Regions from separate parts of the Homo sapiens genome. Here region 1 is linked to region 2. Evidence: fine-mapped expression QTL. A gene starts in region 2. The other region holds a variant in brackets. All regions are shown on one strand. Distances are between the middles of the regions. Region 1 overlaps LINC01619 (long intergenic non-protein coding RNA 1619). Region 2 holds the start of BTG1 (BTG anti-proliferation factor 1).

Evidence for each region. PIP is the estimated chance that this variant, and not a neighbour inherited with it, causes the effect.
Region 1: its variant is fine-mapped to the expression of BTG1 in whole blood (INTERVAL, PIP above 0.99).

Annotation. Positions count from the first base shown.
Region 1 is chr12:92,100,511-92,111,751 of GRCh38, reverse strand. All of the region lies in intron 1 of LINC01619 (long intergenic non-protein coding RNA 1619), which reads left to right. Among named protein-coding and RNA genes, the nearest start is that of LINC01619, 37 kb to the left of the region's middle. RefSeq lists an enhancer at 3,504-4,042. The variant C/AC (reference allele first, on the strand shown) is at 3,189.
Region 2 is chr12:92,137,267-92,153,291 of GRCh38, reverse strand. BTG1 (BTG anti-proliferation factor 1) reads left to right here and starts at 7,446. Exons shown (of 2, transcript NM_001731.3): 1 at 7,446-7,904; 2 at 8,845-13,014. The coding sequence starts at 7,757. The coding sequence ends at 9,212. LINC01619 (long intergenic non-protein coding RNA 1619) reads left to right here and starts at 10,461. Exons shown (of 5, transcript NR_132341.1): 1 at 10,461-10,685. It overlaps BTG1-DT (BTG1 divergent transcript), which reads right to left and starts at 7,207. Exons shown (of 3, transcript NR_135036.1): 1 at 7,049-7,207; 2 at 6,530-6,630. RefSeq lists enhancers at 6,795-7,094, 7,929-8,465, 8,425-8,474, 8,735-8,784, 8,805-9,044 and 1 more and a silencer at 7,685-8,004.

The DNA.
Region 1 (11,241 bases), 39 kb after region 2:
CTAACGGCAAATCTATTATAGTAAACCTTCAAATAAAGTTATACTTAAGGTATGATTGTACTTTTTAGTTTGTGGAAGAAATTCAGTATGAATGTTCCCACACTAGTGAAATAAGTATTGATAGTAATTTAGGGTTTAGAAATAGAATCCTTCATTTTTAAATTAAGTATGTTATGATCAACTAAATATGAACTTGGACTTGCTGAACTATTTTCAGTATATGGTTAGCAAGCTATGACAATAATAACAGTGATAAAAATAATTAGCATGAGTAATAATAGTAATACCATCTAACACTTATTGACAGCTTTTTATGTGCCAGGAACTATTGTAGAATCTTTTAGTTTCACTTGTATATTTAGTCCTCACAATACCTCTGTGAGGCAGATGTTATTATTATGTATATCAGAAAACATTTTATAAACCAGTAAAAACAATATACCAATAATAATGGCAGAGTATTTTATGTTCTTTGTATGTACAATGGGACTCAACTGCTTATTTTTCTTTTATGCCTCTCTTTTCTCTAGTTTTACACTGTAGTCTAGAGAGACAGACAAAGATGAAAGAAATACACACACACGCACACAGAGAGAGAGAGAGAGAAATAGGGAAGATCTATAGGAAATTATTATGCCTAACTGATTGTAGTTTGAGTTTTGTTTTCCTTTTAAAAACTAATTTAGAGAGAAAAGAAGACAAATTCTATCATATAAGAATATTACTCTATCTCGTTGATTTTACTTAGTTTGAAACTGATAGGTGCTGAATTAAAAATTCTGGAAGATGTACTGAATTTCAAGCAGTCCGGGCATTTGTCTCCTGTATCTATCAAGTCAGACTCAAAGTAAGCACCATAGTATTTGTTGATCATTTCTCTCCCACTTACCACATTTGCCTCAAGCCAGTTACTAACTCCAGGTAGTCACTAACTTTCCCTTGGGAACACTTAACCTGGTTGTGAGTAAAAAAAGAATGAACATTTGAGATGTTGAAACAACTATCGGGAAGATGTCAATGAACAGCTCAAGACTGGAATTAATTCCACAGAGAAATGATGACTGAATAGTCAATTTAGAAAGTAAAAACTTGGACTTAAATTCCAAAATGAAAAAAAAAAAAAAAAACCTTGCAGAAGACAGGTGTTTGCTTAAAGTTCTTTCTAATCCCTAGCAACTGTGAGTCTAAGATTTTCACAAAATGAGAGGAAAGGAATTATGTGTAATTTTCTCATCTAAACTAGTCTCCTTTTGCCCACTCCTTTCCAAATTTCAGCTAAAATAGTTAGCATGTCAGCAAAATCCTGCAGTGAACATCTCTTCTGAACAATGAGAATGGGGAAACCACAGAGCCCCACTTTAAAATTACGCACCAACAAATCCAGAGTAATCAGAGGAAGCACTCAACAGATTAAATTAGACCTAATGTGGAATTTAAAACATGCCACAAGTAATTGATTTTTTTCTAGGATAATTTGAGGGCAAAGGCTTATTTGACTTAACACAATAGTGGGTCATTATTTTAACATTAATGTAAAGCAGGAAGAGTGAAGACCTTTACTACCCCCTTTATTTTAGTACCTTTCACTCTCTGTTGTAATTCTTAGTTTAAATGCCTGCCTCCACTCTTAGATTTTGAGTTCCATGAGAACAGGAATCTCTTCTTATTTACACTTGTAAAATTTATAAATGTTTGCCACAGTGTCTGGTCCATGGTAGGCAGTTACCTAATGCTTAGTGAGTGAATGCATGCCATAACAAGAGTAATATACATTAGTAGTTAAAAGGCCTGGGCTGAGTGCAGTGGCTTATGCCTGTAATCTCAGCAATTTGGGAGGCTGAGGTGGGCCGATCACTTGAGCTCAGGAGTTTGAGATCAGCCTGGGCAACATGGCGAAACCCTGTCTCTACAAACAGTACAAAAATTAGCCAGGCACGGTGGCATGCACCTGTGGTCCCACCTACTTGGGGGATGGAGGTGGGAGAATCATTTCAGCCTGGGAGGCGGAGGCTGTGGTGAACCTAGATCATGCCACTGCACTACAGCCTGGGTGACAGAGTGAGACCCTGTCTCAATAACTAACTAACTAACTAAATAAATAAATAAATAAGTCAGTCAGTCCTGGATTTGAATTCATGCTCTTTCATTAATTAAGTTACTTTGAGCAGTTGATTTAATGTTTCTTCTCAATTTAATGCTTCTTAATCTGCCGTTGAAATTTTCTTCCAGCAAATGTTTATTTCTATAGCAAGATTCACAGCATTTTGTAAAATGTGAAGCATTAAGCATGTTTTAAATGAATAATTCAAGTTTTAATATCTGATTGCCACATGTCGGAAAGCTGGCTATCATATACTCTTTTTTTCTCACACTGCCAAAAATTTCAGTTACACTCCATTCTGGCTTATTTTGTCTCTTTTTCACTGATTCTTAGGGAGGGAAAGGAGTGAAGAAAACAGTCATTGTATTGAGGATACTTAAGGTTGGAGAACTTTCTTCTTAATACTGGCTGCTAGGGGCTTTATTTCTTTGAATTCAATTTCCATGCCAACCTAAAATAGCAACTTAGTACATTTTCTTACACATGTTATAATTCTACTACAATTTATGACAGTGAAGAGAAAAACAGTGGAAGAAGAGAGATTCAGTTGGATTTTCTGGGAAAATTTCAGACCACAGGTTGGTTATTGGGTGACAGCTACTTATTTTTAAAACCATCTAGATTGTTATAACTGTGTGTAGATGACAATTGCCCTAGAAATGTTGTATGCTTTTGAAAAGCTTACATAATTGCTCATATGGCAATTGCAAAATCATCCCTTGACGCGAATTTACACCAGAGAAGAAAGTGTCTTACTTAAAATTTCAGTCTTTCCCTCCTGCAGAGAGGAGGCGGCCTGGTAGTGGAGAAGGGAGGGCTAGTAAGGAAGATAGGAAGAGGGGAGGAGTTTGTGCAATGAGCAGAAAAAAGTCACTGAAGAGTTTATAAACAGTCTCTGTACTGAGGAGATGACATTTGAAACTGTGGGAAAAAAAACCATAAACCCAATCATTTGTCCTGCTTTTATGGGGGAGATGATTATCCATTTGGCTTTTGTCCTTTTATGTTTTAAAGATTGTCAAAATAAAAACAACGTATTCATAGCATTTTATTTCCTAATTTGTCAGTTGAAAACTACCCAAAAAAA[C/AC]ACTACAGAAGAGTTTATTCAGAATCTCTATTACCTGTCATTTCAGAATTTTTTTCTCCTTAATTTTAAAAGAGCAGTGAAGGTTTCAGTGAGAAATTTTCCACCAGAAACCAGTTTAGAAGTCTGTTATTTGGAGGATGCTTGGTGGTCTGTAATCTAAAATCTGAGACGATAAAGGATTTTTCAAAATAATCGAAAGCAGGGGATATGTAGGAGAAGATAATGATGTTACGTTATAAGAGACTTCTAGTTAGTAGATTTCAAAGCCAGCTACTTAATGTTTCCCCAAAAAGTCTGCAAAGATTAAGCCTTTAAGTCCCTTTCTCTTCCCGTGTGTGTGTATGTGTGTGCATGTGCGTGTGCTTGTGGATGCACATGCTAAACAATTAAACAAACAAAAAGACAAAACATCCTTTTTCCCAGGTCTCCTAGATATTTTTTCCCCAGGCAATTCCATGTGCAACCTTTGCTTTTGCCGGTTCAGGGCAGCTTGGCCCGGGTAAGACAATAGACATACAAGATAATAACAGGGCAGTTGCTCTGTGGCATTGTCCTTTATCAGGATTAACTGTTACACCAATAAGCAAAACAGTGTGGTGGGGTTTTTCCATCACTGGCCTTTGCTGTTCCTGGGTGCCAGATGGCATTATATCCATGAAAAAAAAAAAAGCTGCAAGTTATAATGTTGACCAGGCACTGTTACTTCCACTTGATCACACTGTTTGGGGCTCTCTTTGATGTACAAAACACTCCTAAGTTAATGAAATGCGTTGCAGCTGGCTAATGGCTGGGAAAGTGCAAACCCTGCATTGAACCCTTCCCATCAGACTATTCAATGGCTAGGTAATGTCAGGCCCGAGCTGGAGAAGGGGCAAACAGGCTCGTTGCCAGGCAGGCCCGGGACTCCTGGGCAAACGGCTGTGGAGGGGCTGGTATTTTTCTCCTTTCAATAGAAGTGGTCTGTGCCTGCAGCAAATGAGAAATAAATCCATCAAGGCCAAGCTCAGGCTTATTTTGCTGGCTGCTAGAATTTGCATAAGAGCCTTGTATATACAGGTAAACAAAGACTTCCTGGAATTACTAATGTGGAGGTGATCTGAGAACTGGGAACAAAGTAGGGCCTCATCTTATGCAAAAAAAAAAAAAAGTCTGAATTAAATTTGACTTTGCTGCTGCTGATCATTTCACTGGCCTGATTCACTGGGAAAGTAGAGCATGCATAATTGGATAGGGAGGCGTTTTCTCACCCCTCTCTCCCTTGCTGCTACGGGCCAACTCCATGGAGAGACACCTTGGGTGTGGACTCCTTTGGGGAGTCGTCCTGTCTTCTGTACCTCTCTCCCCCCACAACTCCACTATAATCCCAGCTGAATTGCTGGCACTAAAAGTGTGTTCACCATCTAGACCCCTCCTCCCCCACATTTTACCAGAAATATTCCGTGTTTAAAATGCTTCCCTGTTCTCAGTTTGCCCTTATCTATGTTAGAATATAAACTTGGGTCAGGATCTCTGCTTTTAGACAAGAGGTCAGCAAACTACAGGCCAGCCTGTGAACTAAATCCAGCTTGCCACCTGTTTTGTTTTGTTTTTTTCCTTCTTCTTATTTTATTTTATGTTTGAGCTAGAGTCTCCCTTTGTCACCCAGGTTGGAGTGCAGTGGTGCAAACATGGCTCGCTGCAGCCTCGACTTCCCAGGCTCAAGCAGTCCTCCTGCTTCAGCCTTCCGAGTAGCTAGGACTACAGGTCTGGGCCACCACACTCAGCTAATACATTTGATGTTCTGTAGAGACAGGGTCTCACTTTGTTGCCCAGGCTGGCCTCGAGAACTCCTGGACTCAAGCGATCCTTCCGCCTTGGTCTTCCAAAATGCTGGGATTCCAGGCATGAGCCACTGCGCCCAGCTGCCACCGTTTTTGTACAGCCAAAAGTTAAGGAGAGTTTTAATATTTTTAAATGACAGAAAAAAAATCAAAAGACTATTTTGTGGCATATGGTAATTCTGTGAAATGCAAAGGTCAGTGTCCAGGGGTGAAGCATTATTGGAACCCCAAGTCATTTGTGCATTCTCTACGACCACTTTTGTGCAACAGCTGTGGAGATGAGGAGTTGCTTCACAGCCCGAAGAGTAAATATTCGCTGGCCCTTTGCAGAAAAAGTTCCATCCCTGCTTTGAGCTTTTTGCCTGGCTTAAACCATCCTTTTTGACCATTTCTGAAGTCTGAGGATAAGTTGAGATGGGTGAGAAACTGTCCATAATCCCAAGGTTTCCATCACCTTTGTCTGAAAAACGTTGTCAGTGCTACCATTTCCTCTACACTTTCCCCTCTTTTTAGTTTAAAATGGAACGAATTTTTGAAGTTCTTTCTAAAGCTTCCTTTCTGTACTTGGCCTCTCCACAGTCAAATCCTATGCAGACCTTCAAACAAATACTTCAGGTTTAAAATGTTCCAGGGATGTCTGTGCACCCTGAGTGCAAATTTGAGGGGAAAGGAGGGGATCTGATAAAACTTCTTATTAAGATATTTTCACATTCCAGACTCCCTCTGCCAATCCACAGTGTTGGGTTGGCAGCCCAAGGTTGCAAGCTTGTCTGAGCCAACGGAAATGAATCTGTCCATCCCCAAGCAGGTGCCCGGTTTTCTGCCCTTAGCTCTCTGCCTTTGTTAATTTCAACAGCATATTTCTCAAAAGAAGTTGCTGACCACTTTTTTACTTCCTCTTCATCCTATTTATCAGAGGTTACTGGGAGTGTGGTCGTATGACTTTCTACTGACTCCACTGTATCTTACGGTGCTGGGACCTTCTTTTTGAACTCCAGCTTTTGCAAGATTGTTGGCCACAGCTATTCTGCATCTATTAAGTATGGAATCTTTCTTCGTCAAAAGTTAACAGCAGTGGCTCTGTGTAGTGGATTGTGGGTGACTGTTTTTCTCTTCGTACTTTTCTATGTCTTCTAAGGGAAACATGTATTTCTTTTATATCAAAGAGAAGAAAGTTTAAAAAAAGGTTCTAAAAGTACTGGTGTAGCAGTAATCTCTACTTACTAATCAGTGTCTACATTGCTTCTTTCCTTTGCTTACTGAAGAGTGCCCAGACATGTGCAGATAGTATTTCAATCAATGAAACCAGATAGATCAATTCTGTCTAATAAGACCCTATTAAAAAACATTAGGTGTATGTGAGAAAGTATCTAAGAGTGTTTTGTATTTGCATTAAAAGAAACCTGGACTTCTGGTTTGTGGTCCAGCATGTAAGGACAAGTAAAAAGCTGAACAATGGCTGGGCGCAGTGGCTCACACCTATAATCCCAGCACTTTGGGAGGCCAAGGCGGGTGGATCATTTGAGGTCAGGAGTTCAAAACCAGCCAAGCCAACATGGTGAAATCCCATCTTTACAAAAAATACAAAAAATTAGCTGTGTGTAGTGGTGTATACCTGTAATCCCAGCTACTTGAGAGGCTGAGGCAGGAGAATTGCTTGAATCTAGGAGGTGGAGTTTGCAGTGAGCCGAGATCATGCCACCGCACTACAGCTTGGGTGACAGAGCGAGACTCTGTCTCAGTAAAAAAGAAAACAAACAAAAAAGCTGAACAAACAAACAAAAAACCAACAAAACAAAAAACCCAAAAAGCTGGAATGGTACTTATTGAATTGTCAATAGTAGTTATCTCGAAGTAGATTCTAGGGTCATGAGTACTTTTACTTTATGCTAAATTTGTTGGTTTATTTTGAATTTTAATTGTGATTATGTGTTACATTTGTAATGATAAAAATATTTGAAAGTAATTTAAGAATCCCAATCTCACATATATTTCCAAAGATCTTTGAATATCCAGTGGTCCCACCTACATCTGTTATTAATTAACCCCTTACTTCCACCCTCTCTTACAGCAAGAAACCCTGACGCTTAGCCCTAATATTCCCCACCATGGAAAATTTGGAAAATGTTAGTATGAGAGCTGATCTGGGTTGGGTAAAGCTGTTAAACTTTCTTTATGGCTTTTGCTTTTTGGGTTATGCATAGAAAGGCTTTTTCTACTCCAAGGTTATTTTGAAAAAAATCTGCTTTTATTTTGTCTCGAATATTTTGTTATTTAGGATTATTGTACTGTACAATTTCTAATCCACCTGGAATTTATTTGTGTATAAACTGTAAGGTAATAATCAGATACAGGATTTTTGACCTTACTATTCTGTAATCAACACAAATTAAAGTTGACATTTACAAGTGCACATGGTAAAAATAAATTATTAATTAGTTACATCCAGAATAAAATATTTTTGACAAATTTTTATCTGTAATATTTGACTTCATAGAAACAATGGTAGTAGAAGAAAACTCCCTTTATGGCTTTGGCTTTGGGTTATGGATAGAAAGGTTTTTTTCTACTCTAAGATTATAAAAATAAAAAAAATCTACTTTTTTTTTTTGGCGGGGGGGGGATGGAGTCTTGCTCTGTTGCCCAGGCTGGAGTGCAGTGGCATGATCTCGGCTCACTGCAAGCTCCATGTCCTGGGTTCACGCCATTCTCCCATCTCAGCCTCCCAAGTAGCTGGGACTACAGGCGCCCGCCACCATGCCCGGCTAATTTTTTGTATGTTTTAGTAGAGATGGGGTTTCACCGTGTTAGCCAGGATGGTCTCAATCTCCTGACCTCGTGATCTGCCCTCCTTGGCCTCCCAAAGTGCTGGGATTACAGGTGTGAGCCACCGTACCCAGCCTCTATTTTTTTCTAATACTAGTTTTTCCCTAAGAGCAGCAAAAGTTTTAACTGAAAGATTTGTTCAAAAAAATACAATTTGCTGCAAGCCATTAGAAGATTTAAATGAAAATAAATTTTGGTCTTAATGAAAATAATTTTAATAAGATAAAAATAGAAATGGGGAAAAAGAAAAACAAACAAAAATTAGAAATGGTGATAATTAGAAATGTTTTAATTATGCTATATGGCAAATTGATTAAGAAAAAATAAAATTGATTTAATCCCCAAAAAAATTCTCATGGAAAATTCATCAGTGTTGGTAAATTATTATTTTAAAAAATTGTATTAATAAAACTAGAGCAAAAAAGTCTTGGGGCCAAATCAGTGCAGTCAAGATGTTCCTTTTCTGTGGAGAATATATTTTATTTTTCTAAATAAGTTGCTCGTTATTCTGATACCAGTTATGTAGGCTTCAACCAATTCTTTCTTAATTGGATTGAAATGAAACTTTTTCATTTACTGAATTCCCATACTGGGGTCTATGTCTGTACTCTTCATTTCTGTGATCTGCTTGCCTAATGTGCACTGTTTTCAATTATTATAGATTTACAGTAGTGTTGAGACTGGGCACAGTGGCTCACGCCTGTAATACCAGCACTTTGGGAGGCTGAGGTGGGCAGATCACTTGAGGTCAGGAGTTCGAGACCAACTTGGCCAGCATGGAGAAATCCTGTCTCCACTAAAAATGCGAAAATCAGCCAGGTGTGGTGGCGGGCACCTGCAATCTCAGCTACTCAGGAGTCTGAGGCAGGAGAATCACTTGAACCCGGGAGGTGGAGGTTGCAGTGAGCTGAGATCATGCCACTGCTCTCCAGCCTGGGCAACAGAACAAGACGCCGTCTCAAAAAAATAAATAAATAAAATAAAAAATAAAAAAATACATGAAGTAGTGTTGATAACTAGTTGACTAAGCTCCCTCTTCCCCCAGTTTGAACTGAATTATTTGTCAACATTTTGTTGGCTGTTCATTCACATTTACTCTGCCATGAAACTTTAGCAACAGTTAGTTAAATAAACCAGATTTTTAATAAACCATTGGCAAGCTGCACAAATCAGGCATTTTAGTTTTAATCTCCTATCATTAAAATTTTAACCTCTAGCCTTGATTTTATATGCAGATACAGATATACAGATGTTTGTGTATTCCCCTTGTTTGATGTTTAGCTTTTAAATTAATCAAAATTATTTAATTTATTTTTGCTTTCAGATCCTGTTTTTATTTTGAGGCTTTATAATCTTTTGTTATTCATTCCTTCTGAAGATAATTTTAGGTAGTATATTATATTTTGTTCATTATCTGTTCATTTTCAAAAATGATTAGGCCGGAAAGCCCTTGCACTTCTGCTGCTCCATATGATATAATTTTGGCATCTCTGTGGAAGTAAAAATGGCAAAGAAGGTTTATTTATATTTCTGAAATTCATTACATACTCTGAGTGTTGATGAAGGGCCAAGATGTCTAAGTGGCCTTGCTAGTGGCATTTCGGTATGTCCTCTTTCTCTTTTCTAGAGAATAGGAATCTATTATTTATCCTGTCCTTTGCTGTGTCCTCTAAATTCCTGGATGAAATTCACAAGGAGCTTGTAGAGTCTACTTCGCTGTTTGATGAGAGTTGGTGATTTGAATTTGCATTCTAATGTGTCTCCTAAGGAGAGAGACTTAACCTTCACAAAGTTGTATTTTGTGAATTTGATATGAGATAATGACCAATTCTTTGAACTGATATCTTGCTTATATATCACTTGTTTATGGCTTATTTTTGGATTAACGACATAACCGTTGGTTCCGTATGGGTTTTGTTTTTTTAAACTACCTTTTATATACAAGAAATACCCCATGAAGGCAGAAATTTGGTCTAATTTCTAATTCTGTCTTCAGTGTATAAAATAATGCCTGGCTCAACACAGTGACATGTGCCTGTAGTCCTAGCTATCCAGGAGGCTGAGATGGGAGAATCTCTTGAACCTAGGAGTTTGAGGCTGCAGTGAGCTATGATCGCATCATTGCATTCCAGCCTGGACAGACAGAGTGAGACCCCATTTCTATAAACATAAGTAAAGTTAAGCTAAAAAATGCCTGGCACATAGTAAAATTAAGCTAAAAAATGCCTGGCACATAGTAGCCACCCAGTAAATATTGTCGATTGACTGACCTGCATATCTATGTTTCCAAACGCAACTTTTGAAGGATGGTAACTAATCAGAATTAGCTATTTGGCTGCCCCAGATGCCATTAACAGCATATCTGAAACAGATCTCACACAAAGCCTCTGACTCCTCTTTTTCTTTCTTTCTTTCTTTCTTTCTTTCTTTCTTTCTTTCTTTCTTTCTTTCTTTCTTTCTTTCCTTTCTTTCTTTCTTTCTTTCTTTCTTTCTTTCTTTCTTTCTTTCTTTCTTTCTTTCTTTCTTTCTTCTTTCTCTTTCTTGCTTGCTTGCTTGCTTTTCTTTTTTCTTTTTTTTTTTTTTGATGGGGTTTTGCCATGTTGCCCAGGCTGGTCTCAAACTCCTGGGCTCAATTGATCCACCTGCCTTGTCCTCCCAAAACCCTCTTATTCCCAAACTCTGATATTGGCGGCCTCCTCCTCCTCCTCATAATGTTCCTCCTTCTCCTCCTCCTCATAATGTTCAGGCTCAAACCTTTTCATTCATTTGTGAGTTTCTCTCTCTGTCTCCCCCAACATCCCCCATCACCTTCATGTCCATATCCAATTAACCCTCATATTTGCTGATTCTTCTTTACAGTATCTCTATACCTGTTCATTTCTTCCATTTCCCACTGCCCTAGTTTGGGATCTTGCTCTCTCTCACTTGGCTATTACAATTGCCTGTAATTATTGTCTTTTCCTTCCAGGGCTCTCCCTACTCTCCCACTTTGCCAAAGTCTGTTTCAATATTGCTTCTAGAACAATCATCCTTAAACAGGGTTGACCTTGTCACTGTATGCCTGTAATGATTTCTTATTGCCTAGAGAATGCCATTCAAATTCTTGAGCCTAATTTGCCTATTCTTCCAGAATGTGCAAGGCCCAGATCATGATTTCCAGTTTAATTTGTATCCTGCCATGCATGTTATTTTCCAGCCAGGACTGTGTCCCGTCATTCCCTAGACACACCCCACAGTTTATTTGCTGCTATTCTTTGTCCTGTCTCTTTGGGCTTCAGCTACACAGACCTCCTCTCAGTTGATTGCCTCCCTGCCTTCTCCCAACATAGTCATGGCCAGAAGGGCCCTCCCTGGTTTTTCTTCCAGCAGTACTTAGCTGCATAATGGTCACTCATTCTCCAGATCTC
Region 2 (16,025 bases):
GGCGTGAACCCGGGAGGCGGAGCTTGCAGTTAGCTGAGATTGCACCACTGCACTCCAGCCTGGGCAACAGAGCAAGACTCCGTCTCAAAAAAAAAAAAAAAGTAAAAATAAAGTATAGAATATGCCAACATTTGATTATATGGGTATCCTACCAAGCTTCCTGAGTATTATCCTCTCTCGAGAGCAAAATGTGAACACCATTACTGGACAAGAGTAGCTGTGGCTTGCTTATTGTCTCAGAAACTGGGAAGAATGGAGTTTACCCAGACTATAGAACCTAAAGGAAGCAAATAACTCACTGAAAACTTAGTTCATTTTAAAGGCAGCTTTTACCTATTCAATTGATGTGCTTTTTCTTTTAAGGAAAAAGATTTCTATTGGATATGGTATATACCTGAAAAAAAGTGAGGTTTTTTTTTTTGTTTTTTGTTTTTTTTGAGATGGAGTCTTGCTCTGTCGCCCAGGCTGGAGTGCAGTGGCACAATCTTGGCTTACTGCAAGCTCCGCCTCCTGGGTTCACACCATTCTCCTGCCTCAGCCTCCCAAGTAGCTGAGATTACAGGTGCCTGCCACCACACCCAGCTAATTTTTTATTTGTATTTTTAGTAGAGACGGGTTTCACAGTGTTAGCCAGGATGGTCTCGATCTCCTGACCTCGTGATCTGCCCGCCTCAGCCTCCCACAGTGCTGGGATTACAGGCGTGAGCCACCGTGCCTGGCCAGGTTATTTTTATTGATACCTAATAGATGTACATATTTTCAGGGTACATGTGATATTGTGACACATTCATATAATAGGTAATAATCAAACTGGGGTAATTGGGGCATCCATCACATTACACAGTTATCTTTTCTTTATACTGAGAACATTCAAATTATTCTCTAATAGCTATTTTGAAATATAAAATAGATTACTATTTAATATAGTCACTGTATTGATTTATCAAATGCTAGATAGTAAATCTTCTATTTAATTGTATTTTGTACCCATTAGTGAATCTCTTTTCATCCCTTCTCCTACCTAGCCTTCTCCGCATCTAGTAGCCATCTAGCCATCAATCTACTCTCCATCCCCATGAGATCCACTTTTTAAGCTCCCAATATGAGTGAGAACACGCAATATTTGTCTTTCTGTGCTTGGCTTATTTTTCTTCAATTGTTCTAAAATTATTTTGTTTTTCCAGCACAGGAAAAAGGAGGCTTATTTTATTTAACATAATGACCTCCAGTTCCATTCAAGTTGCTGCAAATGACAGGATTTCATGCTTTTATTAATGGCTGAATATTTCATTGTGTATATATTCCACATTTTCTTTATCCATTCATCCACTGATGGGCATTTAGGTTGATTCCATATATTGGCTATTGTGAATAGTACTGCAATAAGCATGGAAGTGCAGGTATCTCTTCAGTGTTGTTTTTAATTACAGAATTTTGCCATTACTTTTTCACAGCAATGGTTCTCCAACATTAGTACCTAGACAGTACCCTATCCCCAGAGTTTTTAATTCACAGGTTTAGAATGAAGGCAAAATTTTGCATTCCTATCAAGTTCCCAGGAAGACTCTGATGCTGCTGGTTTGGGGAACACATTGGGAGAACCAGTGAGAAGTCCCAATCCCTTGCTTCATTAGTTTAAGGGAAAGGGGAGGCTGAACGTAGTGGCTCACGCCTGTAATCCTAGCACTTTGGGAGGCTGAGGAGGGAGGATCGCTTGAGCCCACGAGTTCAAGACCAGCCTGGGCAACATAGGGAAACCCTGTCTCTACAAAAACCAAAAAAATTAGCTGGGCATGGTAGCGCGCACCTGTAGTCCCAGCTACTCAGGAGGCTGAGATGGGCAAGGCTGCGGGGTAGGGGTGGGGGGAGTGGCCGTGCATAACTTGAGCCCGAGAGGTAGAGGCTGCTGTGAGCTGTGATCCTGCCATTGCACTCCAGCCTAGGTGACAGAGTGAGAGACCCTGTTTCAAAAACTAAATGAATACAAGGAAGGGGAGGTCCATGTACCCCACTTCCCCCTTCAGAAAGTTATAAATACTATACTCCAGGATCATAATTTGTAAGAACTTTGTACGATTTTTCAAAGTTTCCAATGTTCCAGAGTTAATTCTTATTAACTCTTTCCCCACTCTACTGTTTTTTGTTTGTTTGTTTGTTTTGTTTTATTTGAGAGGGAGTCTCGCTCTGTCGCCCAGGCTGGAGTGCAGTGACGCGATCTCGGCTCACTGCAAGCTCCACCTCCCGGGTTCACGCCACTCTCCTGCCTCAGCCTCCCCAGTAGCTGGGACTACAGGCGCCCGCCACCACGCCCGGCTAATTTTTTTATATTTTTAGTAGAGACGGGGTTTCACTGTGTTAGCCAGAATGGTCTCAATCTCCTGACCTCGTGATCTGCCCGCCTCGGCCTCCCAAAGTGCTGGGATTACATGCGTGAGCCACCGCGCCCGGCTGTCTACTGTTAAACCTTAAAATTGAAGAGGTCTTTGGCAGCTGGGGGGTGCAGATAAACACTCAGTAACCCTGACCACCACGTGGTTGCCTCCGGTGACAATATAGACGGTGAGAGCTTTAAAAAGAGATAGGCCAGGAGGTTCTGGCACCAGGAAGGAGAAGGTTTGGGGAGGAGCCCAGCTTTGAGAAATGGCCCTGCAGCTATGCAGTAGAAAGTTGAGTGAGAATTCCCGGAGGCCACTGATCAGATTCAACAGTGACCTGGACACAAAACCATCCCTCCTTGCTGCCCTCCCACCTCCCCCACCGAACCCTCCAGGGCCCGCCTCAGTTGCTGGGCAAGAGAGATTGTGGAACTGACCAGGCCCCTGGTTCCTTTTGTCAATTTAGGCCAAAGGGGAAATGAAAAGTTTAAATGGTCTTAAATAGAAAGCACTTTTGCTACTTTCTCTTATCTGTACCTAGGGATAATTTTCATTCCAGTTAAATTATTTGGCAGATTAACATTTTAATATGTTCCTTGTTTCATTTTCCAGTGGGCCTTTTAATAAATGTAGCTGTATCTTACAGATTATGTCAGCTATGAGATGTCCCCTCAGCTGCCTTGAGTTTTGATTTTTTTTTTCCTACTACTATCTCTACTCATCTCCAGATGGTCTTCTAACTTTATCAGGTTTTATTTCTCAAGGTCCTTTTTAGGAAAGGTAATATCAGGAGCTCCCTTGAAAACCCTACCAGGTATTTAGAGCTCAAATTTTGTAGTCCATGACTTGAGAGTTCAAATCTGGCTGTAAAACCTTGGGTAAATTACTTATTTTCTTTAAGACTGTATTCTTATATGTTAAATGCTGTCAACTATACTCACTCGATTGGGTTTCTTAGAGAATTAAATGGGAAAGCATGGCTGGGTGCGGTGGCTCATGCCTGCAATTCCAGCACTTTGGGAGGCTGAGGTGAGTGAATCGCTTGAGCCCAGGAGTTCAAAACCAGCCTGGGCAACATGGTGAAACCCCGTCTCTACCAAAAAATTCAAAAATTAGCCAGGCGTGGTGGAACGTGCCTGAAGTCCCAGCTATTCAGGAAGCTGAGTGGAAAGATAAGCTTGAGCCCAGGAGGCGGAGGTTGCAGTGAGCTGTGATCGCACCGCCACACTCCAGCCTGGGCAACAGAGTGAGTCTCAAAAAAAAAAATAAATAAATAAATAAATAAAAAGAGAGAGATAGAAAGCATGTAAAACACTTAGCACTGATGCATTGTTAATGATAAAATGATAATAACCTGCATTATTACTTTTGTTGTTAAGCGATGCTTCACTCCTTTTTCCTCCCACTCTCCAAACAATCTGAATAGCTTCCACCAGAAGAAACTGAGTTTTGTCTAAAATCATTATGTGTCACCCTCTGACTGAAAGTTCTTTTGTGTTTTGTGAATCGCAGTAGATCTAAACCCAGTGCAAATGTCTTAGCTTGTGTCCTTGGATTCTTATTCAAGCAGAGCAAGTCAGGGTGCTAGCAGGGAGGCAACTAAAAGTGGTCTTCTCCTTTCTGCGGGTAACAAAAAAATAGATAAATAAGAGGCATAGGTATCTAGTTGAAGACATAAGCCCACAAGAAAAGCTAACTTATTTAAAGATAAATCTGATCATATAATCTGTCTGCTAAAAACACTCTCAAGAGTACTCTCAAGTACCCTATGCCTGCCTCCATCTACCAGTTTTTTCAACAATACTTATCCTCCTTGGTTTATGCCTTTGAGATACTCCAAGATCAAGCCCGTTCCTTTCCTCCAAGGAGAACTAATCTTGGGTCACTTTCATTGGCTTAGCTGAGATCATTCACTTTTGGGGTTTTCTTATTTTCCCTCTGCCCCGCAACACACAAATAAATAAGTGCCCTGTCTCTATTTGCCATTAACACTCTCTCAAGAACTCTCACTTGACTCTGTACTTATTGGTTAAGTTGTGAGTTTTCTAGACACCTAGCACTCTATCTGGAAGTAGGTGCGTAATAAGCACAACTTTAGTGACTGCAGCTAGCTGACTAGCAACAGGCAGGTTGCCTCTGGCTCAGTCTGGAAGGCCCTGGCCCTAATGTGCCTTCAGGGAAAGGGCGGGTCCAACTGGGGAAACAATATCTAATATTTGTGCTTTTATTTGTCAACTTATTTTAAAACCCAGGTTCATTTTTTGAATTTGTTTTGACAGCATTCCTAAGATTTTTAATACTTTGATTAGAAATGTTCTAAGTTTTAGAAATTAATTAGACAGGCCAGGCGTGGTGGCCCACGCCTGTAATCCCTAAACTTTGAGAGGCCGAGGCGGGTGGATCACCTGAGATCAGGAGTTTGAGACCAGCCTGGCCAACATGGTGAAACCCCATCTCTACTAAAAATACAAAATTTAGCCAGGCGTGGTGGTGCATGCCTGTAATCCCAGCTACTCGGGAGGCTGAGGCAGGAGAATCACTTAAACCTGGGAGTCGGTGGCTGCAGTGAGCCAAGATCGCGCCACTGCACTCCAGCCTGGGTGACTGAGCGAGACTCTATCTCAAAAAAAAAAAAAAAAAATTTCATAAATTACTATCAAATTGCATGATAATAATAAAGTACTTGGGAGAGCCTTGGTAAACTTAGCACAACAACACAGAAAGCACCTTTGTAATTCAAAAGCTGTCCAGAAATACCTGCTTGTTTCCCAGATGGGAAGGGCCTGACTAAACTTCCAGAAAATGTGACTAAACATATATATGTCAGGAATTGAAAACTATTAGCAATGAACATTATGTACCATCTAAGGCTTACGTTTAAGACTAATGTTTATTTCCAGTTTTTTTCTGAGTACTCTGTAGATTCCCAAGTTAAAAATTACTGTAGTTTCTCAAATCAGTTTGTCTCCTAATGGGATGATTTAAGGTGGGAAACACACATATATAATTTGAAAAACTCAGTGCGGGAAGTAACTCTCCCTGAGTCTATGGGTTAAACTTTCTGTTAACCCTGTTCAACTGGTTTTATAAGGCTTTCAGAAGGGGTCCTGCTGCTGCTAGTGCAGGCAGTTAAAAATAGTATGGAGAACAAGGGCTTGGGGGAAGTCTGAGTCCAATCCTAGCATTTTGTTGATTTAATATTTCTGTTTTTTAGATGAGACAATTTAAGCACATGACCGAGAGGCCAAGTTGGAGACCAGGTTTAGAAGAGAAAAACTTTCACTTGACTCCTAATTTGTACTCAGTGACACATTAACGACAATGTAAGTGAAAGCAGGGAACTAAGGGTGGGTCAGGTTAGGTGGGAGACCAGGAGTTGTTATTCTAGTGTTATGGTAATTTCATGAATTTACTTTTGCTTCTCGATCTTCTTTTTGAGTAGTAAAAGAGGTTTCATGCCTCCAGTGAAATTACTATTTTTAAGCAGAGTTCTATCTGAAAAGTTCTATAAGAAAAAAAAAAACCACTCTTTAATTTTTTCACATGTAACTACTTAGTTATGTGTACTAATGAAAAAATAATCTAGAAGTTATTTTTTCAAATCGAGTTTTACATATTTTTTAAACAATAAAACGTTTTCTCCTGTTTTATAATGTCATTATTTTTGCTTCATTTCTATATCCTTTAGCTCAGTATTAAAAAGAAAAAAAAAACACTCAAAGTGGTGTGTTTTGCAATATTGATGATCAACTAAGGTCGGGATATTTATTTCCATCTGGTAGAGTTCAACTTCTGCCTCCTGTTTGCTTTCTCCATCTGCCTGCCTCCCTTCATCTTTCTTTTTTTCTTTTCCCCCTTCTCCTTAATGGAGTTGGGGTTAACCCTGTCTTAGGCCTAATCGTTTTAGCAGGCTCCCGCCTTCCTGTTACACTGGTTTTTAAGGTTGTTTTTTTTTTTTTTTGGTAGGGTTTCAAATAAACTTGAATGTCTACACTTAATACTTTCACAAGCTTCAAATTCTTTTTATTTTATTTTTATAAAGAGCAGGACTCAGGCTAGGACGGCATTTGGACTAGGTAAAAAAGAAAATCTTCAGTTTTGTGCACACAAGTTTTAAAATACATTGTACAGATTTTTTTTTTTTGGATACACACCACTCTTTACAGGATCCGCGTTATATCTGCTTTCAGTAACTGGCTCTCCTGTCCGCATCCAGTAAGGTTTCCACTCTTCTCTCCGTTGACTGCTGAAGTTACTGAAACAGCAACCACAAATGGCCTTACTAACCTACTTATTTTGCAATTAAACTTTTAAAAGATATCCCCCTACTCCTCCCCTAGGGTGGAACAGAAATGGCTCCGCGGCGTTGGCAGCTCGTCTGCGAGGGGACCCTGGCTCCCCGAGGCTGCAGTCCTTTTTCTTGGACAGAACGCCCCGCAGGACCGTTCCCTCCACTTTCCCCCGCACTAAGGCAGCGCACCGCCAGCACACACAGCGCTGGCGCCCGCATCGCGCCGCACCACACGCGTCTCCGGCTTGAGGAGCCAGTCACCGAGACCCGGAGCGGGAACGAGATGTAAACACGGAGTGGGGACATGCAGCCCGATCTGAGAAGGCGGCGTGAAGAGTAGACACAGCCTGCGCCAGGCGGTTCTTATTTACCCAGCACTTACACTCCAGGGCAAGCGGGCCCAGGCAGCGCACTCTTGGAGAAGGATGCACTGGCGCAGAGCCTGGACCTGCTGAAGCGGGAAGGAGGAGCTAGGGCTGGGGGCGGAGCTTTCACACGCGCACCCTCTGTTCCCTCCCTCCCTCCCTCGACACAAGCAACTGGGTCTCCAGCCGCCACTCCGGGTTTATTTGTTTACAAGCGGATTACGTCAGCTCCTCCCTCTCTTCCCTATCTCTGGACCCGCCTCCTGAACTCTTTTCCCGCCCCTTTCGGCTCCGAACCGGCTTGCGTCACAATGGTGCGATATTCGGATTGGCTGGAGTCGGCCATCACGCTCCAGCTACGCCACTTCCTTTTCGTGGCACTATAAAGGGTGCTGCACGGCGCTTGCATCTCTTCGCCTCTCGGAGCTGGAAATGCAGCTATTGAGATCTTCGAATGCTGCGGAGCTGGAGGCGGAGGCAGCTGGGGAGGTCCGAGCGATGTGACCAGGCCGCCATCGCTCGTCTCTTCCTCTCTCCTGCCGCCTCCTGTCTCGAAAATAACTTTTTTAGTCTAAAGAAAGAAAGACAAAAGTAGTCGTCCGCCCCTCACGCCCTCTCTTCCTCTCAGCCTTCCGCCCGGTGAGGAAGCCCGGGGTGGCTGCTCCGCCGTCGGGGCCGCGCCGCCGAGCCCCAGCCGCCCCGGGCCGCCCCCGCACGCCGCCCCCATGCATCCCTTCTACACCCGGGCCGCCACCATGATAGGCGAGATCGCCGCCGCCGTGTCCTTCATCTCCAAGTTTCTCCGCACCAAGGGGCTCACGAGCGAGCGACAGCTGCAGACCTTCAGCCAGAGCCTGCAGGAGCTGCTGGCAGGTGAGCAGGGCGAGGGCGTCGGAGGGACGCGGGCCCCACATCCCTGGGTCAGAGTCCGGCCGTCGGGGCTGCGGGAACCTCGGCAGCGCCCCGGGGCCGGTCGCGCTTGGGCCCCGCCGCGGGACCGGTGTGGTTGCGCTGGGTGGCCGCTAACAGCGGTTCCCCGCGAGGCTTTAGGGGCTGGACGGAGGGCGCCCCCTTCCCCCCAGCTGGCAAAACGGAGAGGAGAAGACAACACGCACAACAAAGAAACTTAAGCCCACCGAGGCGGGAGCTGCGGTCCGAGGACCGTCGGCGGATTTGGGGACAAAGGAGCCGTGGGGCTGGGGTGGGTTCGACGTCCCCTTTCCTCAGCCCCCTCCAACCGTTGCGTGGTCGGCGGCCCAGCCCCGGGGTGGGAAGCTGCGCCGCTGCCCCGGAGCCAGCTCAGAACGGACGTGCCGTCTCCCCGCGCCTCCTGCCCCTGCCCATTAATCATCGGATTTGTCACCGGCACAATTAACAGCCCTGCCCAGAGCGTGGTTTAGGGTTGCTTGTTTTTCTTCCCTTCGGGGTTAACAGTCCGGTGGCGCTTCTCATCTCCAAAGCCATCAACTCCATTGTGTGCATCTGGGGTGGGGTGGAGAAAGTAAACAGTTTCTCGCCTGGCCATAGGTGCCAGTGGCTTCCCGACTGGCCGAGGCTGCGCGCCTGATTCCTGTTTTGGCGGCTCAACCGGTTGGTTCCTGGAGATTGTTTTGTCCGGTACTACTGTGTTATTTCTAAAACCCTGCCCGCTTTTTCCATCCCCGCACATGCACAACAACGGATGCAATCCTGGACATTTTAAAAAGTTGATAGTTTTCATTTTCGCTCCTCAAAGGAGCCTGGGGTAGGAGGAATCCGCAGTGGGAGCTAACGATCCTAAGCGTTGTTTCTCTGTTCTTCTTTTCTTCTATAGAACATTATAAACATCACTGGTTCCCAGAAAAGCCATGCAAGGGATCGGGTTACCGTTGTATTCGCATCAACCATAAAATGGATCCTCTGATTGGACAGGCAGCACAGCGGATTGGACTGAGCAGTCAGGAGCTGTTCAGGCTTCTCCCAAGTGAACTCACACTCTGGGTTGACCCCTATGAAGTGTCCTACAGAATTGGAGAGGATGGCTCCATCTGTGTGCTGTATGAAGCCTCACCAGCAGGAGGTAGCACTCAAAACAGCACCAACGTGCAAATGGTAGACAGCCGAATCAGCTGTAAGGAGGAACTTCTCTTGGGCAGAACGAGCCCTTCCAAAAACTACAATATGATGACTGTATCAGGTTAAGATATAGTCTGTGGATGGATCATCTGATGATGATGGATAAATTTGATTTTTGCTTTGGGTGGGCTCCTCTTGGGGATGGATTATGGAATTTAAACCATGTCACAGCTGTGAAGATCTGGCACAAGATAGAATGGTAAAAAAAAAAAAAATTTTAAGTGACAGTGCCATAGTTTGGACAGTACCTTTCAATGATTAATTTTAATAGCCTGTGAGTCCAAGTAAATGATCACTTTATTTGCTAGGGAGGGAAGTCCTAGGGTGGTTTCAGTTTCTCCCAGACATACCTAAATTTTTACATCAATCCTTTTAAAGAAAATCTGTATTTCAAAGAATCTTTCTCTGCAGTAAATCTCGCAGGGGAATTTGCACTATTACACTTGAAAGTTGTTATTGTTAACCTTTTCGGCAGCTTTTAATAGGAAAGTTAAACGTTTTAAACATGGTAGTACTGGAAATTTTACAAGACTTTTACCTAGCACTTAAATATGTATAAATGTACATAAAGACAAACTAGTAAGCATGACCTGGGGAAATGGTCAGACCTTGTATTGTGTTTTTGGCCTTGAAAGTAGCAAGTGACCAGAATCTGCCATGGCAACAGGCTTTAAAAAAGACCCTTAAAAAGACACTGTCTCAACTGTGGTGTTAGCACCAGCCAGCTCTCTGTACATTTGCTAGCTTGTAGTTTTCTAAGACTGAGTAAACTTCTTATTTTTAGAAAGTGGAGGTCTGGTTTGTAACTTTCCTTGTACTTAATTGGGTAAAAGTCTTTTCCACAAACCACCATCTATTTTGTGAACTTTGTTAGTCATCTTTTATTTGGTAAATTATGAACTGGTGTAAATTTGTACAGTTCATGTATATTGATTGTGGCAAAGTTGTACAGATTTCTATATTTTGGATGAGAAATTTTTCTTCTCTCTATAATAAATCGTTTCTTATCTTGGCATTTTAATCAATCTCTTGTCATGATTATAGAGGTTTAGCTAAAAGTATTTTTTCTTAGAAGACAGGTTCTATAAACTGAATCTCTGTTGCACACTGGTCATGCTGGAAAAACATTTGATGAGGAATGAAGATGCTCTGTATATACATGTTTAGGTTTTACAGGAAACACAGGAGTAGCATGTTTTAAAAATTTCTAAAGTCAAAACATGGACACATTCACAGGCTAATGATCTCATGAAATAAGGATAAGAGACCACGGTAGCATCTACCAAAAATGTGATACTCAAAGGATTACATTTCATTGCTTCCCTGTTGAAGTGAAGATATAAATGTTCCATTCTGACCCACCTTTGAAAAACAATTACTTTGCCCCATGGATTCTTTGTTCAATTAGAAATTTCCCCGGGGCAGGTGACCCATAGTCTTAAAGAACAGGCTAAACACCACAGAGAGATTGGTTGCTTTTTGCTTTTCATCACCTGCAAGATGTACATAAAAATCACATAAGCTGGAATTCAACAAAAGGTATGTTTATGAACTTTTATTCTCAAAAGTTGAAATGCTGACTTTCTCGATTCCTCATTTTCAGACTTTTATTTCAGATAAATACTAAAAACCTAAGTGAACCTTGATAATGCTGTAGTGTAGATTACTTCACTACCCCATATAATAGAAGGACTTGCTGTTTAGTTGTAGAGGATAACAGCGTTTTTCAGTGGAAATTGAAAGTGGAAAAATTGAATTTTGCTCTACACAGTTAACATATAGTGGCCTTTTTTTGGTATATATGTAAACATGTTGACACTGGAAATACGCAGTCTGAAATAAAATTAGTAATTACTTGAAATTAGTAATCTCAAATAACTTTTAAGAAGTTATTTCTACACCCAGGAATAAATTATTCTGATTTTGTAGACAACACAGGAATAGGCCACTGAATATGCAGGTATTTAGAGTACAAATGTCTGTGGATATTATTGGCACACCATTCTCGAGAGTTAGAATTCGTAGACCCGCAACACATGGACTACCCTTGCCAATTGTTATGGTTTTATTTTTAAACCTATTCTGTGAAAAAGCTCCTCGGTATTTCAAACTTGAATTACAATAAAAACACCAGGTAGGGTTGTTTTTAAATGGGTCTCACCCCAGTGCTGACTACTGTTGTTTACCAACTACATTTCATCTGGTAACTCCATTGAAACTAAGTACCTCAACCATTTTTTTTTTTTATCATAAAGCCTTTTTTCAAATGGAAAGTTGTTTTTGAAGATCTTGACATCAGACTTTTTCAATCTTTGAAAATGATGGAAACAGTTAATAAAAATGTTTATTTTAGAATTCAGGTGATGTCTGGCTTGTGAGGAGCTGTTTATAAGTTTGTCTTTGAAAAAGGCTTGCACACATCACTCTGAGACCAGCTGTTTCCTGTGACTTTAACCTTACCTTCCCCAGACAATTGAGCTGAACCTGTATCTGCGGTACAGTAGCTGTTTGTGATGTATTTCTTGTTCACTGTTTCTGGGGAATGTTTTGAAATATTTTATTATAAATCCTTTTAAGATAGGATGACTACTTTCAAAATTATTGTTGCCTTTGGCACCAGGAATTCATAGTTGTGATTGGCAGTAAGTTTGAGGAGTGTTACTTTCTAAGTTTTAACAGGTAGTTTTGAAATTATTTCCTTTTTTCCAAATTTAAGTAGTGCCTCCCTCTGTAATGTTGAAACAAGGCTTCAAGTGGATTGTATAGCAAGAGTTACCCTGGTTCATGCAGGATAATGCGGCTGTTATCTTTGTCATCTGGAATGGGAATCTCATGTCTTTATCCTTATGTGCAATATTTCTATAATAATAGACTGGAAAGGCCACCAGAAAGTGGCTTTCAGGTACATTGCACAAATAGTTTCCTTAAGTCATTATAACTCACACATTGCAAGTAATTAATTTTGTTTTGTATAGGTGTTGCAGTTTATGAAATTGGCCTTCAAGTTAAAAGGAAGGAAGCCGTATTCCCGATGGCTAGTGTTTAATGACTACAGGTTTCCAGGCTCCCTTTAATCTTGGGAGCAAATAAATCTACTATTGGACTTCTCCCTGCGTGACTTTTAACATTTCTGATACTCTCTCTTCTTCCTCTTTACAGAAGAGAGGTATGATAACTGAAGTTGTACTTTGCATATTGAAGTTTAAAGATACTTCCTCTCCCCTTTTCACCCCTATTTCAAATGATGTGATAAAATCCTCTTGATAGGCTATATGGAGAACATTTGTCAATAGTTTTATCTATGCATGGAAGTCTTCAAAAAGTATATCTTGGATTGTCTAAAACTGAATAGATTTCTTATTTATCTGAAGGTATACAGACTGCCAACATTTTAGACTTATCTCTCAGTCTCTGCCACTGAACTTTTATATATGGCTGCTATCAAAATATAACCGGTTTATTTTCATATTTGGAACTAATATAACAGTATCACAAAATCTTTTACAGTAAGATAGTTTGTAATACCAGCCGACCCAGCTGCTTAACTGAGTCCTTAAATCATTTAATATATGGGACTGTAAATAGAGAAATCTGTACATTATGAGATCTGATTTCTGGTTATGCCTATAGATCTTTATTTTCTTTATCCCTATAGATCATTTTCTTCTGATGTTAAGTGTTATATTTTTGAAATGCTCCTAAACAAGTAAGCCTTAGATTGTATTAATCCTGAGGATTGATACCATTTCCTCAACACTTTGTGGAGTATGATTGACACCAGTTTTTTTTTGACTGCAGGTTTAACTTGGCTTATCACTTTTCGTATTGCTCAGTATGTCCAAGATAGGAATAAAAAAATGTAGTTCAACTTCTGACTGTTATTTATGAGCCTTTTCATGGTATTTATCATTTTAGTATTGAAGATGCAGTGTTCTTTTGGGAATTACGTATGCTTAGAAGAGAGTACTGATGCTCAAAGGTGAAATGATTTGAATCTAGAGTTGGATAAAAAGGGAAAGGATGGGGAAAATGAAAACTGGGAAGCTAAACTGAGAAGGAATTGCAAGGTTTGGTGATAAAAATTCATTTGCTATGGTCATAGTTGTGTATCGAGAGGTTTGCACAGCACAGTCTCTTGGCAGAGTTTAGGAATCTCTACTCTGGGGATTCTGCAGTTCATGAATCGTCAGGGAGACTCTGCATTCAATTTGTTTCTGTGAACATGCAGGTGAAAGTGGTAGTACAGGTGGAACTTCATGGGAACTGGTTTTGGGGGAGGTGTGGATGGAAAGCACAAATGTCTCAGTATTTTCTAAAGGGAGACTATTTTTAAAGGTGTCTTGTTACAAACCACTTGATTATAGCCTCTTTTCTTGTACCTTTAAGTTGTGAAGGCCATTTGTGACTCATTCCTGGTGGTAGAAAAATGACCAAGTGTAGGCCAGACATATAACATCACATTAGTACCATTATAGTTAACTGGATCCCTGTATTTGGAGAATATTACATCAAACACTATGTATAATTTCAAATTGTAGCATTAATAGGAGATACTTCACCCGTGAGTACATTTACTTTTAGTGATTCTCTAGATGGTCATCTCCAAAGTTATTTTGTCATTCTTTTAGAATATTTTTGTATGTATTTTCATGTGTGCATGCAAAAGCATGTGGCACATTTTCTAAACAAATATACATATATTTGACATACACTAAAAATTTTGTTGATAGGATGCATGATCAGAAACATTTAGAGACTATTTCTTTAGGTTTTCACTAAAGTAGATGAATATTTGCTCTCCCCAAAATAACTCATAATTATGTTCTTTAAGTGGTAAGTCTTAAAATGACAAGTTAGTGTAGCAATACAAAGAGGATTGCCTTGTATAAGTTTAACTTATTTGCATAAGTCTTTATAATAATAAAACTAAGTCATCCTTTACAGCCAACAGATATCCAAATTGTGTTACACCAATTTGAAATCTATGTTCCCATATATTCAACTATGTGTTGCTGTGTGTTGAAATTCACATTTTTGTTTCTCAGAAGTTTTTTTTTAAATCTTAGGGTCTTTGTAACATTGATATGCATGGTTGTAAGAGAACTGAATTATCGAAGTTGTAGATGGGTGATTTAATTATTTTAGTAGTTATGGCTTAGCAAGAAAGGCCCTGTATCTTTTCCCTCTTGTTCTGAGCCATCCCTAAATTTTTGAAGGAAAAGATGACTAACAAATTGGACTTTATTTGAGAAGATTCCATAAATGACCATAAGCCATAAAATGATTAGACTTGACAATTGCTTTATGAGCAGATTTGAGTACACTTTCTAGTAGTTGTCTTGATTTATGGCAGTTTTGTCCCAAGTCAGTAGACTAAATGGAGTTGTATTTCCCACAAATTGTACTTGTGAGTCTTCAAGTTATCAATATATATTCTAATTTGACCTTCCAACAACTGGATGAGGTTGGCAAGTGGGTCAGTATTTTTTATCTTCATTTTATGGATAGAAAACTGAGGCTTAGAGAGCTTAAGTAATTTACCCTAAAGCCAGACAGCTCGTAAACAGCTAATTCACAATTTGAATTCAGGCTTTTCTGATCACAGAATCCAAACTCTTAACTATTGTTACATTGTGATGCATGATTTATCTACCTTCTTTTACACTGTTGGAACATGTATTTTAACTTCTCATTGTGAGTTGGCCATCTTTGGTTATTTTCAGCCTTGAAACTCTTTCACTATGTTCCGGAGGCATATAGCAGTCTACAATTAGGCTCCTTTCTTTGAGAGGCAGTTGGAATTTAGCATAAAGAATACTAGTCTGGGACTCAGACCAATAAGTTGAAATCTTGACTTGTACCAACTTGTGACTTTGGACCAGTTGCTTAGCCTCTCTGAGCCCATCATTCCTTGTGTAATAATGGAGACAAGTCATTTGTTGTCAAGGTAAACATGAAATCATATAGCTAGTGAATGTTTGGATTCTTGGAATTTGAATACTCTATCATGGAGGCCAACAAAATATAGCTGATTGTTTTCTTGTGTGTGTGTGTGTGTGTGTGTGTTTTAACAATTTGATCATAGTATGATTGTTAGGAGTTTCTTGAAAGATTGCTTTAGCCTATAGCTGCAAGAAATGTACTTGCGTTTTTGAAATACAATAATATAGGAAGGAAAATGAACTGCTTTTCCATTGTGAAGGATGGAAATAGACAACACAGGCCTTGCATCTTATTTTATAGAGCTTTCCTGAGCTGTGTGCCTAACATTGTGGTTTTCAGAGCTATTTTCTCAGTAAAAAAAGAGTCCTTCAGATCCTTTGTCTATATTGAAGACACCTTAAGTTGAGAGATGGAGTAATGCAACCGAACATATATAGCAATGTAGCCCTGTACAAAGCATGTTTGCTTCCATTATGTTTTTTAATCCTCACAACAACCCTTTGCTATATGAAGTTGACTTTTCCCAGGGTTTTTAGTCCTTCAAACCATTGGTATTTGGCCATGCTTTTGCAAGAGATTTTCAAACAGTGATTTTTAAACAGAACTCAGTGGTTCTCAATCTTCTTAATCTAGAGTGGTGTGAGTATTTCCTTTACTGCAAAGAAAAGCAGCCTTTTTATAAATTGTCAGTTTGAATTTGAGTTTCTTCCTGTGATGTAACCTGATGCAATGTTTGCCTGAATCACTAATAATGTAACTGATTTCCCCTAGCCAGTCATAAATGAGTCAGTGATCACGGATTCTTTTAGTTTATACTCAAGTTGCTTTTTCTGTGTGCAGATATCCTCATTGAATAGCTTGCTGTTGGGCTTGTATAGCATTATGGTTTACATCAGGGAAGTAGATAGCCAGCAGAGCTTTGTGCTAATTTATTTT